Homo sapiens: one gene and its partner. The protein of the gene in region 1 interacts with the protein of each later gene in a biochemical or structural test. Each region holds a gene or a part of one and is shown in the gene's direction. Other genes may lie near its edges.

Region 1 (7,023 bases):
TTTTCCTGACCTTCCTCCACACACCCCCTTGAGCCGGCATATTACCAGTTACTAGAGTAGGTACAGTGGAAGTGAGTTATGAAGCTGGGGTGTTAGCTTCCTGGATCCCTGAGAGAAAGTTCTAAACTCCTTTCTCCCTGATCAGACTCACATCCTAAACGTCTCCCTTTGCCTCGTTGTCTTTTAAAGCAAGAATGTGTAAGAAATTCATTTTGGGGTTGGAGGGATATTTTGATGTTTAGGGCTGCTTCACTAGACATCTTTTTCTTCTGATCTTGTTCTCTCTCCTCTCTTCATTTTCTCAACCACCCTTCCACCACTGAGCCTCCCAAAGGATGACAGCCCAGGTCCTGGCCAGAGTCAGTTCCTGTCCAGATGCCCCCATTCTTCAAAACCCCTTCCTTACCTTTTGGGAAGCCCTTCCTTACTCAAGTCTATCTCTCTTTCCTCCTGCTGCAGTGTGAGCCCTTGCACATCAGAACCCCCAAGCCTAGGTTTATTCCCGCCCAGTACTCTCTTCTCAGGGTCCTCCTCACTCCTCAGACTCTTTACCTTTCAGGTCCTCCAGCTCTGCGTGTGGGCTCATTGCTCTTGGGGCATCTGGGTGCAGCTGAATGGTACTGCAGGAAGGCCCCTGACTTGGTAGTGCTGGGTATGAGCGATAGAGAACCTGCCTCCCTCTTCTGTCCCAGATTTCAGCCTGGTTAGCAGGATCCTGCATTGTTTGGAGAAGGAAGCAGTTGGCTTTGGAGTGTTTCCGGTGCAATGGCCTCAGGCACCAATATAAACCCTCCCTGGGAAAGAGGTGAGGGGTATATGTGGAGAGTTGTCCCTCTTGCTCCCCTAGGGGAGATGAAAGCCTCTCCCTCTCCCACCAGGCCTTAGCTTCCCTGGCTGAAGAGCTCCATTTTCCTCCCTCCTTTCTACCCTCCTGACTCCAGGGGTGGTAGTGGTCCCTATTCTGGGTCTCCCTTGAGTCAGGCACTGCCTAGGGCCGAGACTCTGTCTCTCCAAGATAGGACAGATCTTGCTCCCACCCTACTCTAGGCTCAGCGGGGTAGTCATTCTCTGGGTTCATCCCAGGACAACTGTGTCATCCCCTTGGCAATCTCTGGACTGAGCCCCCTTCCTGGCTTTTCTGGCTGTCTGTCTGTCTTTCTGTCTGTCTGTCATTAGTGTGCGCTGTCTTGGCTTTTTAGAACCTCTCTGTCTCTCACCCTCTCAGTTCATCTCTTACTGCCGAACCTTTGTGACATTCTCTGCCCTGCTTTCTGCGTCTCTGTCACTTGTCTTATTTTTCTCTGCCTGTCTCCATTTACCCCCATCCAGGCCTCTTGGTATCCCAAAAGCTTCTTGGGAGCAAGAGTCTCTCTGGGCTTTCCCACTCACCCCCTGGCTCCCTCCCCTCTGTTTTGGCTATTTTTCCCCCTTCCTGGCCAGACCCAGTGTCCAGTTCAGCACCAAAAGTTTCCTCTCCACTTTCCTCCGACTTCCTCTTTCTTCTTCCCCCTCCACTAATTTGGGGAATGGGTTTTGGAGAGAATGTTTCTGGAAGAAAGGAACTTGATACCCTTTGTGGGCTAAGAGGGAGAAAGGAGGTATTTCAGAAGGAAGGAGGGAGGTTAGACTTCTGGCAGAACTTCCTCCTGACCAGGAGCCTAAGAACTGGAGAAAGATGTAAGGAGTGAGTCAAGAACTTGGAGCTTTTACTCTGGTGAGCATAAGCTGTGTGTGTGGCTGGGGTGGGGGGAGAAGGAGAGGAGGCTTAGAAATGCCTGGTGAGTGATATGGTGACCTCTGGAGGCCTTCTGGGGGTCTGGCTTTTATTTGTGGGGAAAGGAAAAGCTGGTGGGGGAGGTCACGGGTCAGGCTAATGTCCTGCTGCATCAATATTGACTCAGAATGGAAGCGGAGACCCTTCCCCTCCCCTGGCTGTCCAAGCCACCCTGTCTGTCTGTCTGTCCAGGCCGCAAAGCAGAGGCCCAGACTCAGGAATGACAAAAATGTGTCTGAGCCTCAGGAAAGAGCCACTGGGCAACACCCAAAATACAAAAAATTCAGTGAAAACCTCTCGGTTTGGGTTTGGGAGGCCCTTGCTGCCCCACCCCCATAAGGTCGAAAATTCAGATTCCTGCAGGCTCTGTCCCCGCGCCGCCCCCCCACCCCACCCCCCGCACCTTGAGCATCCTCCTCCCACTCTGTTCCCTTAGCTATATCATGTGGTTCCCTTTAGAGAACCCCCCTCTCACCTAGCTCAGAGGGGAGCCTATCTCTCCTTCTGCTGTGTCCACTCTTAAAAAGGGCCCCAAGAGTCCCTGTCATGCTTTTGCAGTCCCTGAGTCTCCTTGTCCTTTAAGAAGCACCTCTAAGGTCTTAGCTCTCTTCCTTGCTCTCGCTCCCTCAAGGGGGTATCAAAGGATGGGTTCCCCTCCTCTGGAGAAGACTCCTTCAGGGTTGGACTTCGCTGTCACCCTCTCTGGCCAGGCATTCTCACCCCACTTCCCCACCCCCAAGGTCCCAGAATGGGACACAGAATGACAGCCAAGGGTCAAGCAGGGCAGTGGGGTCTGTGTTGTGTCTGGACGCACACCCAACTCTACACCTCCTGCCCTGGCTCCAGCTTGGTGGCCCTGGGGACCGTGGCTGGGCTGGGTGCCTGGGTTTGGGGGGGTGGGGCAGGGTGTTGGCCAAGTTAGCATGGCAGTCACATTCATCTTCAGGCAAAGCCGAGAACAGACGGCCCCTGTGTCCTGGTGTTCTTCCTCCAAACTCGCTCTCTCTCCTTCCTCTCTAGATCTCTCCTTCTTCTTCTCCTGCCTGTCTTCCCCTTCTTCTGTCCCATTCTTGCTCCTCTCTGTCTCCCCTATGCCCTTCCCTCCTCTCTGAGGAGCCCTGAAGGCCACCCCTTAAAATCCTCTCCCCACTGCCAGGGCCAGAGAACGACAGCGTTCTCCCTGCAATTTCCCTTCCTTGTTTTTTGTTTTTGTTTTGTTTTGTTTTTGAGACACAGTCTCACTCCATCACCCAGACTGAAATGCAATGGCGTGATCTCTGCTCACTGCGACCTCCGCCTCCTGCTAATTTTTGTATTTTTAGTAGAGACAGGGTTTCACCATGTTGCCCAGGCTGGTCTCAAACTCTTGACCTCAAGTGATCCGCCCATCTCCGCCTCCACCTCCCAAAGTGCTGGTACTACAGACGGGAGCCACTGCGCCCATCTGGTTTCCTTTCTTTCTTTCTTTTTTTTTTCTTTTGAGATGGAATCTCGCTCTGTTGCCCAGGCTGGAGTGCAGTGGCGCGATCTCAGTTCACTGCAAGCTCCGCCTCCCCTGGTTCACGCCATTCTCCTGCCTCAGCCTCCTGAGTAGCTGGGACTACAGGCGCCTGCCACCACGCCCAGCTAATTTTTCATATTTTTAGTAGAGACGGGGTTTCACCGCGTTAGCCAGGATGGTCTCGATCTCCTGACATCATGATCTGCCTGCTTCGGCCTCCCAAAGTACTGGGATTACAGGCATGAGCCACCATGCCCGGCCTGGTTTCCTTTCTTAACCCGGCTGCATCCCATGACCTATGAGGAAACCACCTGCTCAGTTACCAGTCACCCTGTGCCTCAGCTCCCCCATGTGTGAGAGGGGGGCCGCAAGGGCACCCACCTCACAGGGTTATAGTATCTAAGTGAGTTAATAGTCACCGTATTTCCAATCAGTGGCTGGTGGTTAGCAAGGTGAAAAAGGTTAGCTCCCATCGGTCAGGGAGACCTCCGGGTTCTCTCATGCGGGCCAGGAGGCGGGGAAGGCCTTAGTTGCTTTTGACCTTAGGGCAATGTTGTTCTCTCATCTAAACTGCAGGCCACAAAGGTGGGTTTTCTGGGTGCTGGATTCAGACACAGAAGGCTCTGCTGAGGGGAGTGGGGTTGGCTTTCCCTCTAAGCAGATTATAAGGGTCCTACCCCGCTCCCAACTCAGCTCTCTCCCAGCTCTGAGTGAGGCTTCCCTTGGCTGTGTAGACTGTCCCAAAGTAGTTTATTTGTTTCTTTCTTCCCTCTCCCCCTGAAGGAAATCAAAGACAGGCCTCAGCCTTCTCGCTCCAGATTCCTGGGCCCTTCAACACCAGCCCTGACAGGAAGTTCTTTCACGTATCTCTCTGCAATCCTTGTGCTGGCCAGGCCCTCGGGAGATGTGGCCCCCTCCCCCGGTGCTGCTGTGGGATAGGGGCCTGGGCCCTCCTCTTCCTTTCACTTGTCCCATCCCCCATCCCCTCCCTGCAAGAGCACATCTGGTTTGTGAATCTCTCTCATTCCAGCTTTTGGAGTTTGCCAGCTGCTGTTTCCTCTGTGGAGTTCAGGCCAAAAATGGGGGTGGGGGACAGCGGGGGGGACTCAGTGAGGGCTAAAGGAGGGGGCACCATGGCTGGGATGTGGAATGGAGGGGAGGTTAGGTGACCACCCGGTGACCTCAGGCCGTGGCTGTGCGCTCTGCCCCTGGGAGGAGCAGGGCATGGACCAAGTCCCAGGTGGGTGGCACGGGGGTCTGTTTCTGGGCTCCAAACATCTCATCTGCCTCTGAGTCCCATTCCAGCCCCCCTCTTCCCCCTCAGCCGGCCACGGCTGGTCAGGGGAAGCGGACGGTTCTCCGGCATGCTAACTAGGCTGGCGGGCTGTGTTTCCCGGGAAGACCTCACAGCTGGCCCAGTGGGGCAATGAACTCAGCATTATCCACCTCCTCAAGGGGCCTTTATTCCAGGCTCAGGGTGGGGGCCAGGGGAGGGAGGCTGAAGGGGGAGCCTGGCTAGGCCATCCTTGATGTGTTTCCTGAACTCGGTCATTTTGGCCAGGGGCCTGAGTGCCGTCTCCCCTGCCAGCGGTGGGGGTTAGGAGGGAAGACATCTCAGTGAGGCTCCCATCAGACTCCCTCCCTCCTAAGAGCCCCCCCCCCCCGCCATTTTCCTTATACTTCTGTCTCTGCCCTGCATTTGCATTAGTTGGGTACAGCTGTCTTCTCAGGCGACTCTGGCTCCTGCAGGGCAGAGGGTCATCTCACCCTCCTTGGCACCCTGATGCCTAGTGCAGTGCCTGGCATAGAGCTGGCCTTCAGTGTGTGCCAGCAGAATAGAAATGTGATGGCACAGTCTGAGGAAAAGCCACGAAAGGCCAGGAGACTGGGAGCTCAGCCTTGGGTGGGGGAGAAGGGGTGGGTGACTGTTCCTCCTGTGGAGGATGTGGTGATAGAGGTTGGGAGGAGTGGGAATTCGGAGGACTGGTGTGGATTTCACTGGTTCAGAGCTTGGAGTCAGCTTAGCTGGTTTTGTCACTTGCCAGCTATTTGACCCTGGCCAAGTCACCTGGCTCAATTTCTTCATCTGTGAAATGGTGGTATTAGTTGTCCCTATTTGTCATACTGTGGAGGGAATTAAATATGATGATACATGGAAAAAACTGCTTTACCACAGTTCCTGGCACATACTGAGCCCACAATAAGAGTTAGTTGTCAGCCGGGTGCGGTGGCTCACGCCTGTAATCCCAGCACTTTGGGAGGCTGAGATGGATGTATCAGATGAGGTTGGGAGTTCGAGACCAGCCTGACCAACATGGAGAAACCCCGTCTCTACTAAAAATACAAAATTAGCCATGCGTGGTGGCGCATGCCTGTAATCCCAGCTACTCTGGAGGCTGAGGCAGAAGAATCACTTGAACCCGGGAGGCAGGGGTTGCAGTGAGCCAAGATCGTGCCATTGCACTCCAGCCTGGGCAACAAGAGCAAAACTCTGTCTCAAAAAAAAAAAAAAAACAACAGAGTTAGTTGTCACCATTCTTAATTCCTCCTTGGGGGATGAGGGAAGAGAATGGGGTAGGAGTGGAAGAAGCCTGATTGGGGTGGGAGGGTAGGGCCAAGAGGTCCTGAATATAGTAGCTAACTAGTTGGACTGGACTGAAACCAGTTCCTAGAGTTCATTTCAGCCATCCCCCTGCCTCTGCTCCCCAATTCTGATATCTTGAAAATCTTTAGGTGCTTCTTAACTCTAAGGATGTCTACTGAAAGTCTCCCTGAGGTCTAACCAAGGGAGGCTGTGTCTTTAGAGAATGGAGAGGACAAGGCAGGTGGATCACCTGAGGTCAGGAGTTTGAGACCAGCATGGCCAACATGGTGAAACCCCGTCTCTACTAAAAATACAAAAACTAGCTGGACATGGTGATGCATGTCTGTAGTTCCAGCCACTGGGGAGGCCGAGGCAGGAGAATCGCCTGGGCCCAGGAGGTGGAGGTTGCGGTGAGCTGAGATTGTGCCACTGCACTCCAGCCTGGGGGACAGAGTGAGACCTTGTCTCAAAAAAAAAAAAAATAGGGAATGGAAATGGAAGCAAGGCTCTCTACCCTGCCCATTCCTGCCCAGCCTTGCCCTCCTGTGCCTCTGCTAATACCATCTCCAACTACTACTGTGTGTGCCAAGGGCATCCCTCCCCACTGCTCCCATCTGGGGGCCTAGTGATTAGGGGTTGGGAAGGATGGGGTGATGGGTCAGGGGACCAGGAGTGTCCCAGAAGGCAGGGAAGCAGAGAGGTTAGATAAGACCAGCTCGGGGCCTCTAGTAGTAGGAGTTAGAGGAAGACAAAGAGAAAACATGTCAAGGCCTAAATGCACCCCCCTTCACCATCACTCTGTCATCAAAGCCAGGGGGTGCTGGTGTCTGATGAGAGTAACCAAGAATAGCAAAGGCTTTGACCCTGACTCCCAGGAACAGGCAGCCTAGAGGACTTGGAGGGGTGCAGTAAAATGTGCTTCTGGATCCTCCCCACCCCCACCGCAGATACACAGTGTCTAGGAACTACCCAAAGCCACCCCCTGACACCCCCAGGCACATAGACCATGGCTGAGGGTCTGGGCCAGATGGAGACTGATGCTAGGGAAGGAAGAGCAGTACTAGGGGACTTTGGGTTCACAGAGTTGGCCTCCATCCTTCATTTATATCCCCTTTTCTTTCCTTGCCCTAGCCCCTAAGACTTGCAGCCCCAAGCAGTTTGCCT
Region 2 (7,023 bases), on another chromosome or scaffold:
ACACCCAGCTAAGTTTTCACCATGTTGGCCAGGCTGGTCTTGAACACCTGACCTCAAGTGATCTGCCCGCCTTGGCCTCGCAAAGTATTGGGATTACAGGCGTGAGCCACCATGCCCAGACAGGTTTTTCTTTGATTATTTGGCATTATGCACCTGCAGTCTCAGAATAAATTTTTTACTTTCTCTGAGTGATTTTCGCTTCTGCTTTGATGAGATTGTTGGGACGGACAATAAGGGACCAGTGCATTCTGCTCATTCCTTCTTGGGGCCATTTCTTTTGTATATACGGGAGAAAATGTCTGTCTATAGTGTCAGGCTATAAACCTCGTCCTAGTCAAGCAGCTCACAAAACCATATGGTGGGTCTCACATCAAACCAGGTAAAAGAGTGAGGATGATTTAGACTCAAAGAAAATTAGAGCTAGAAATAAATTTAAAGCTCATCCACCCTGCTCCAACCCTAAGTCAAGCCACATGGTCTTCCGATAGTGGCTCAGTTTTCTACTTACATAAAAAGACAGCACATTCTCTTAGCAATATGTGTTTGTATGTGTGTGTGTGTGTGTGTGTGTGTGTGTGTGTGTGTATATATATATATATATATATATAATTTAGAGACAAGGTCTGACTCCATCACCCAGGCTGGAGTGCAGCAGTGTGATCGTAGGTCACTGAACCTTCAAACTCCTGGGCTCAAGTGATCCTCCATCTCAGCCTCCCAAGTAGCTAGGACTACAGGGGCATGCTGCCATATCCAGCTAATTATAAAATTTTTTTGTAGAAGCAGAGTTTTGCTTTGTTGCCCAGGCTAGTCTCAAACTCCTGGCCTCAAGCAACCCTCTTGCCATGGCCTCACAAAATGCTGGGATTACAGGCAAGAGCCACTGTGCCCAGTCCCTCTTAGTGATATTTTGCATATTATATATTCAAAAAATATTTTCTATGTATGCCACTTGGGAAACTTCTGTAGAATGGGATAGAGGGACAGATAAACCCAATTCTTGATCCACTCAAAAATAACACCTGTGACAGAGTGAAGATGAAACAGGTGCTGGGCACACAGCAAGTGTTTTAGAAACATTTTTGAACTCAACTTTGCCTGAGTTGTGGTGCTGATCATGGCTGCCAGGAAATGCTAGCCAGCTGTTCTTCCTATACAAGTATATGACTGGGTGTCTGCAGCAGCTGCCCGGCTGTGAATTGCACACACCAATGGCCAAGACCCAGCAGCGACTTGGCTAACAGGCCCAGCCGATGTGCATGGGTGACCACGCGATGCTCCTGACACACGCACTGGTGGCTTAGGGAAGTTTTTTTGAGGATTGATCAGAAGATCTGATTCCACCTGGAGCCTCTGAAGTGATCACTTCCAGGTTAGGCTGAACCCAGATACCAGGAGACCTGTGTATTGAGAGCCTTTTGTTTTTTTTATGTAGTCACAACTATTCCATTAACATACAGCTAGGCATTAGAGAATCCATGCTGGACTCCTACAAAGGCCCCTAGATCCTTAGAACACTCAGAGATTCCAAAGCACACGTCCTCCCAGGACACCCTGGCAGAAGAGCCCGGGGGCGACTGTCACCTTTGCCTGCTGTCGGGAGCTGTGCTGATGGGTAGGGGGCTCTGTGCTTGCTGTGGCCCAGAGCCAAGCCGTGGGGATGTGCTCTGTCTGGAGCAGACCCCTTCACTGTCTGCCTAACTCCTTCGTGTGTTCCCGGAACAGCTTCTGTGTTATGCATTCCAGAAAGCCTGCCTGACCACCCCAACCTCAACAAGCCTGGGATGGACAACCTCCTCCACATTCCACTCCAAGCCCACCCCCGTCCCCACCCTGCTGCGTGGTATGGCGCTGCTCTGCTGTACCCTGAGTGTCTAGTTATTCATCAGGCCCCTTCCTAACTATGAGCTCTTTCAGGATAAGAGCTGTGTCTTTGCATCACCAGAGCCTGTGCCAGGGCACGGCTGGTGCTCCATACACGTTGATGGTGAATATATAGCATGGGTAGATCATTGTCTGTGAATGCTTAACAGAGAAGCAGCTCATGTGGGTGCTTGAGGGCTGGGGGGGCAGGGTGGGGGTCTGGTAGGCGCTGGGAGGAGGACATCCCTGCAGCTTCTCCAGCCCCATAGATGGGACTCTTGATGTGGGCAGTTTTTATTTCAGCTGAGTCTCCAGAAGGCAGGGGACAGGGACTGGGAGGGGATGCTAAACCCGATAACCCAGTATGGATGAGCTAACAGAGGCCGGGCACACAGCTCCTGCCTGTAATCCCAGCACTTTGGGAGCCCGAGGTGGGCGGGTTGCTTGAGCCAAGGAGTTTGAAACCAGCCCGGGTCTTGAACATAGCGAAGACTCTGTCTCTACAAAAAAATGAAAAAAAAAAAAAAATTAGCCAGACATGGTGGCACGCACCTGTAGTCCCAGCTACTTGAGAAGCTGAGGTGAGAGGATCACTTGAGCCAGGGAGGTTGAAACTGCAGTGAGCTGTGATCACGCCACTGCACTCCAGTCTGGGTGACTGGGCGAGACCCTGTCTCAAAACAAATAAATAAGAAAGAGAGACTACTGGTCAACTTGATTTCTGCTGGTTATTCTCTTTCTGTCATGTTCACCAAAAAGAGAAACCCGTTGTATTTTATCTTGTTGTAGCAAGAGCCGGTGTCTAACACCTGGGCTACTGAGAGAAAGCGAAGGGTTTTTTTCTGGGAAGCTCCAATTTCCTTATTTCTCTCACATGATGCCTCTGACTTTCATAGTGTGGCTTGGTCAGATGGGCCTTATCAATAGAGATGGCCTGATGTCTCAGCTGTGTCATCTCAGCTGCTAGTTCTGGCTTCTGCTGGGAGTCCACAGTGGCCTCTGCATGCATGGTGTGGGAAAGGCAAATAAAAAAGCAGATTAAAAACCAGATTAAAGACATCACCCTGTATTCAGGAAATAATGGCTCCTGTTGATACTGTTCTACGAACACAGATGAAGGCACAAAATTCTACATCAATTGCAGAGAATTGGTTATAGGCTAACACAGGTGGTCGGATGATCTAGGAAGCAGGATTCAGTATTAACGGGGATCCATGAGGACCCCATGAAGCGTGGCATCTCTTCTGCATCAGCAGCTTCAAGTTGTTCCAGGGAGAAGCGGGAAGCCTCAGTGCTTTTGTTGAGGAAGGATGTTCATGACAGTAGGTGCAGGTCGCTCCTGCCGTGCACCCAGGTGTGGGGGAAGGACTTTCCTGCTTCTTTTCCAGTTACCTTACAATTCAGCAAGACGGAAATGATTAGCCCATGACAAAAACCAGGAAACAGGCTCAGAGAGAGTGAGTTGCCCACACAGAATGTGTGCTGTAAATGCAGTTAGATTTCCAGGTTGAGAATCCAGTGACCACGCCCCTTCTTTGTGGCATTCTGCTGTCGTATACCATGTGGAACACATTAAGAACGTTATGGCCAGGCGTGTTGGCTCACGCCTGTAATCCTAGCACTTTGGGAGGCCAAGGTGGACAGATCACCTGAGGTTGGGAGTTCGAGACCAGCCTGGCCAGCATGCCGAAACCCTGTCTCTACTAAAAATACAAAAATTAGCCAGGCATGGTGGCACACACTTGTAATCCGAGCTACTCGGGAGGCTGAAGAAGGAGAATCGCTTAAACCCAGGAGGCGGAGGTTGCAGTGAGCTGAGATTGCACCGTTGCAATCCAGCCTGGGCAACAGAGTGAAACTCCATCTCAGAAAAAAAAAAAAAGTTACAATTGGGTGTCACATAGACAGTGAGGAGTAGTGGAAAGAGTGTTAGATTTGGGGTAAGAGAACTGTGTCTCCTGGGCTTGAGTCCTGATGCCAACTCTCACAAGATGTGTCACCGTACAGCACGACGCTTATACTTTTTTTTTTTTTTTTTTTGAGACAGGATCTTGCTCTGTCTCAAGCTGGAGTGCAGTGGTATGATCACAGCTCACTGCAGCCTCAAACTCCCAGGCTCAGGCCATCCTCCCACCTCAGCCTCCCAAGTAGCTGGGACTACAGGCATGTACCACCATGCCCAAATAATTTTTTGTATTTTTTTGTTGAGATGGGGTTTTGCCATGTTACCCAGGGAGGTCTCAAACTCCAAGGATCAAGCCACCCACCCTCCTTGGCCTCCCAAAGTGTTGGGATTACAGATGTGAGCCACCACACCTTGCAAATTTTTGTATTTTTTGTACAGCCGAGGGTCTCCCTATGTTGCCGAGGGTGATCTTGAACTCCTGGGCTCAAATGATCCACCCTCCTCAGCCTCCCAAAGTGTTGGGATTACAGACGTGAGCCACTGCTCTCAGCCCCTTACACTTTTTTGAAGTTCAGTTCTCCCATCTGTAAAAACGAGGTAATAATATTGCCTCAAATGACTTAATGGATGTGAAAGGGTTTAGTAAACTCTGTGCCTGGAAAGGTAGAAGCTACTCAAATATCTGTTGAGTGAGTGGCATTCATCCATGTGTACATTTCTCAGGCAACAATAATGTCACTTTCACCTAAGGCCAGTAAAATGTGGGTAAAGTCATATAATGATACAATGAAAGTTTCTGATCAGTATTTCCTAATTCAAGTGTGTTGAAATGTGGAGTTGGGCTGGAGAATTGTCAAATCATTGCGTATTTAATTACCTTGTGGTGATGTTTGCTTTAGGGAGTGGAAGGAACATGAGGAACGAACGACCTTCATCACGGAAGATGACATTCATTTCGATTCACTTTAGATTTCAGGGCTTGTTTAGATGCAGACTTTGCAGTTAACATTTTATTGCACTGACTGATTTAGTTTTCACCAGGTGGTCCTTGTGTTTGCTTCAGAAGGATCTAAGTGTATTAGGACAGGGTTTCTTCTGTTTTGATTGTGGGAGGAGGCGGGATAGACTTCTGTTTTCCTAGACCCACAACCAAAATTCCCCACTCCTCCAAATAACCGGGATTACCAGGCAGAGGGTGGAGCATTGAGGAGATGACAGCTGGACATGCCTGCTGTAGCTTTTTCTGAGTTTAATTCCATATAGCTTAGACACAGGCCATATGCCTACATTTGGAAGATGTTTTGGAGAAAATTCTGCTCTGATGGGTGGGGGGCAGGGTCTGCCAGGAAAATATTCTATTCTTTTGAAGACATGGGGTCTTGCTATGTTGCCTAGGCTGGTCTTGAACTCCTCGCCTCAAGTGATGCTCCTGCCTCAGCCTCCTGAGTAGCTAGGACTACAGGTGCAAACCACCACACCCAGCTCTGAGAGGATGCTATACTCTTCACTTCATTGGAATTGGTGAAATTAGATAAGAAACAGACTCTTCCTCTCTTCTCCCCTAGTTATAAACAGTTCTGTTAAGAGAGGGAAAATAACCATTTAGCCTATAGAAAATCACCTTTTCGAAAAGTTAAGAATTACTTATGTGATGGTAGTTTTTGAAAGTGGTTTTTATTCTGAGATCATGGCCTCTGTACTATGCAGGGCCTGGAGAAGTGGGATGAGAGCTACCAGGCTCAAAGCTCCTGTCCCGAACAAAGGGTTGCTTTCGTGGGAGCACGCCACCCTTTCCAAGGCTAGTTCCTCTCCCAGCATCTCACTTCAGCTCTCGTCCTGCTCTAGAAACGTGCCTTTGCTGGTCCAAGGAATCCTGGCCGTTTCTTTTCTTAATTGTTGGCATTCATCTGGGCTATGGTGGTTGTGGCGGGGGTGGCAGTGGAGAGTGTGTTGTTTTAAATCCATGAGTCATTTTAGGGTATTGGTACTCTTGAAGACTGACTTTCTCTTGCTCAGGTTTTCAGAGAGACCTTTTGCTAAGCAACAATAACCTAAGAATCTCCTTGACCAAAGATAAATGTAGCAAACTTTGCACATGGTGCAACATTTGATAATAGTATCAATTTACGTTTGTCTTTCCCTTGCAATTTCCCTCCTCCTCTAGCTTGCTCACGTTTCTGCCTTCTTCTTGCTGGCAAGAGTACAGACTATAATTCTCCAGTTCACTAACATCTGGAGCGACTGCACTGTTTGCAATTTCATTGATTGACTACATGTGTACAGTTCCTTTATTGCAAGTCACTTTTCTGTATAATCTTTTTTGAGACGAAGTCCTGCTCTGTCGCCCAGGCTGCAGTAGCGCAATCTTGGCTCACTGCAACTTCCGCCTCCCGGGTTCAAGCGATTCTCCTGCCTCAGCCTCCTGAGTAGCTGGGATTATAGGCGCCCGCCACCATGCCCAGCTAATTTTTTTGTATTTTTAGTAGAGATGGGGTTTCACTATGTTGGCCAGGCTTGTTTTGAACTCCTGACCTCAAGAGATCTGCCAGCCTTGGCCTCCCAAAGTGCTGGGATTACAGGTGTGAGCCACTGTGCCTGGCCATATAATCTATTTTTAAAATGTTTTTATATGAAAATAAACAGAGACAGAGTCTCACTGTGTTGCCCAGGCTGATCTCGAACTCCTGGGTTCAAGTGATCCTCCCACCCTGGCCTCCCAAAGTGCTGGGGTTACAGGCGTGAACCACCTCATGTGGCCTCGCTTTCCTATATAATTTAAACAATAGAACTATAGTGCCATTTGTAAGAGTTTCCCAGTTTATACTGCATGTGACACTCCCCATGTCGTATGTTCTCACAACAGAACAGAAACCGCAGGATGTCAGCACCGGAGGCAACCTTGGAGCATCCAGCCCACTTGGTTTTGCATTGCTGGCAGGAGATTTTATGCCTCAAAATATAGATGCTTTTTGGAAGGACAGCACATTAATTATTTTTCAGTCATTTTTACCTTATGCGAACAAGCTGATTAGTTCCTTTCCTAGGAGCTGGTTTTTATGGAGGGAAGATGGGGCCGGTAGAGGCAGATAGAGGGGGATGTAATACACAGGCACTGAGACAGCACCCCACTGACTTTCCCCTGTCCCTCCTCCAGCTGGCCTCCTCCTTTCCAGGGGCTGTGCCCAATCCAGAATCAGTTACTCACTGGTGCCCATCGACCATCATTTCCCCATGTGGCCACCAAAGAAATGAAC

The links. Proteins that work in one complex are often made in the same cells at the same time.
Region 2: the proteins of LRP1 (region 1) and PLAT form a complex in vitro, tested with the Homo sapiens proteins (2 studies listed by BioGRID).

Annotation. Positions count from the first base shown.
Region 1 is NC_000012.12:57,131,469-57,138,491, forward strand, and holds part of LRP1 (prolow-density lipoprotein receptor-related protein 1 preproprotein), read left to right. Parts: intron 1-6,990; coding exon 6,991-7,023. UniProt on the Homo sapiens protein: Endocytic receptor involved in endocytosis and in phagocytosis of apoptotic cells. Required for early embryonic development. Involved in cellular lipid homeostasis.
Region 2 is NC_000008.11:42,197,555-42,204,577, reverse strand, and holds part of PLAT (tissue-type plasminogen activator isoform 1 preproprotein), read left to right. Parts: intron 1-7,023. UniProt on the Homo sapiens protein: Converts the abundant, but inactive, zymogen plasminogen to plasmin by hydrolyzing a single Arg-Val bond in plasminogen.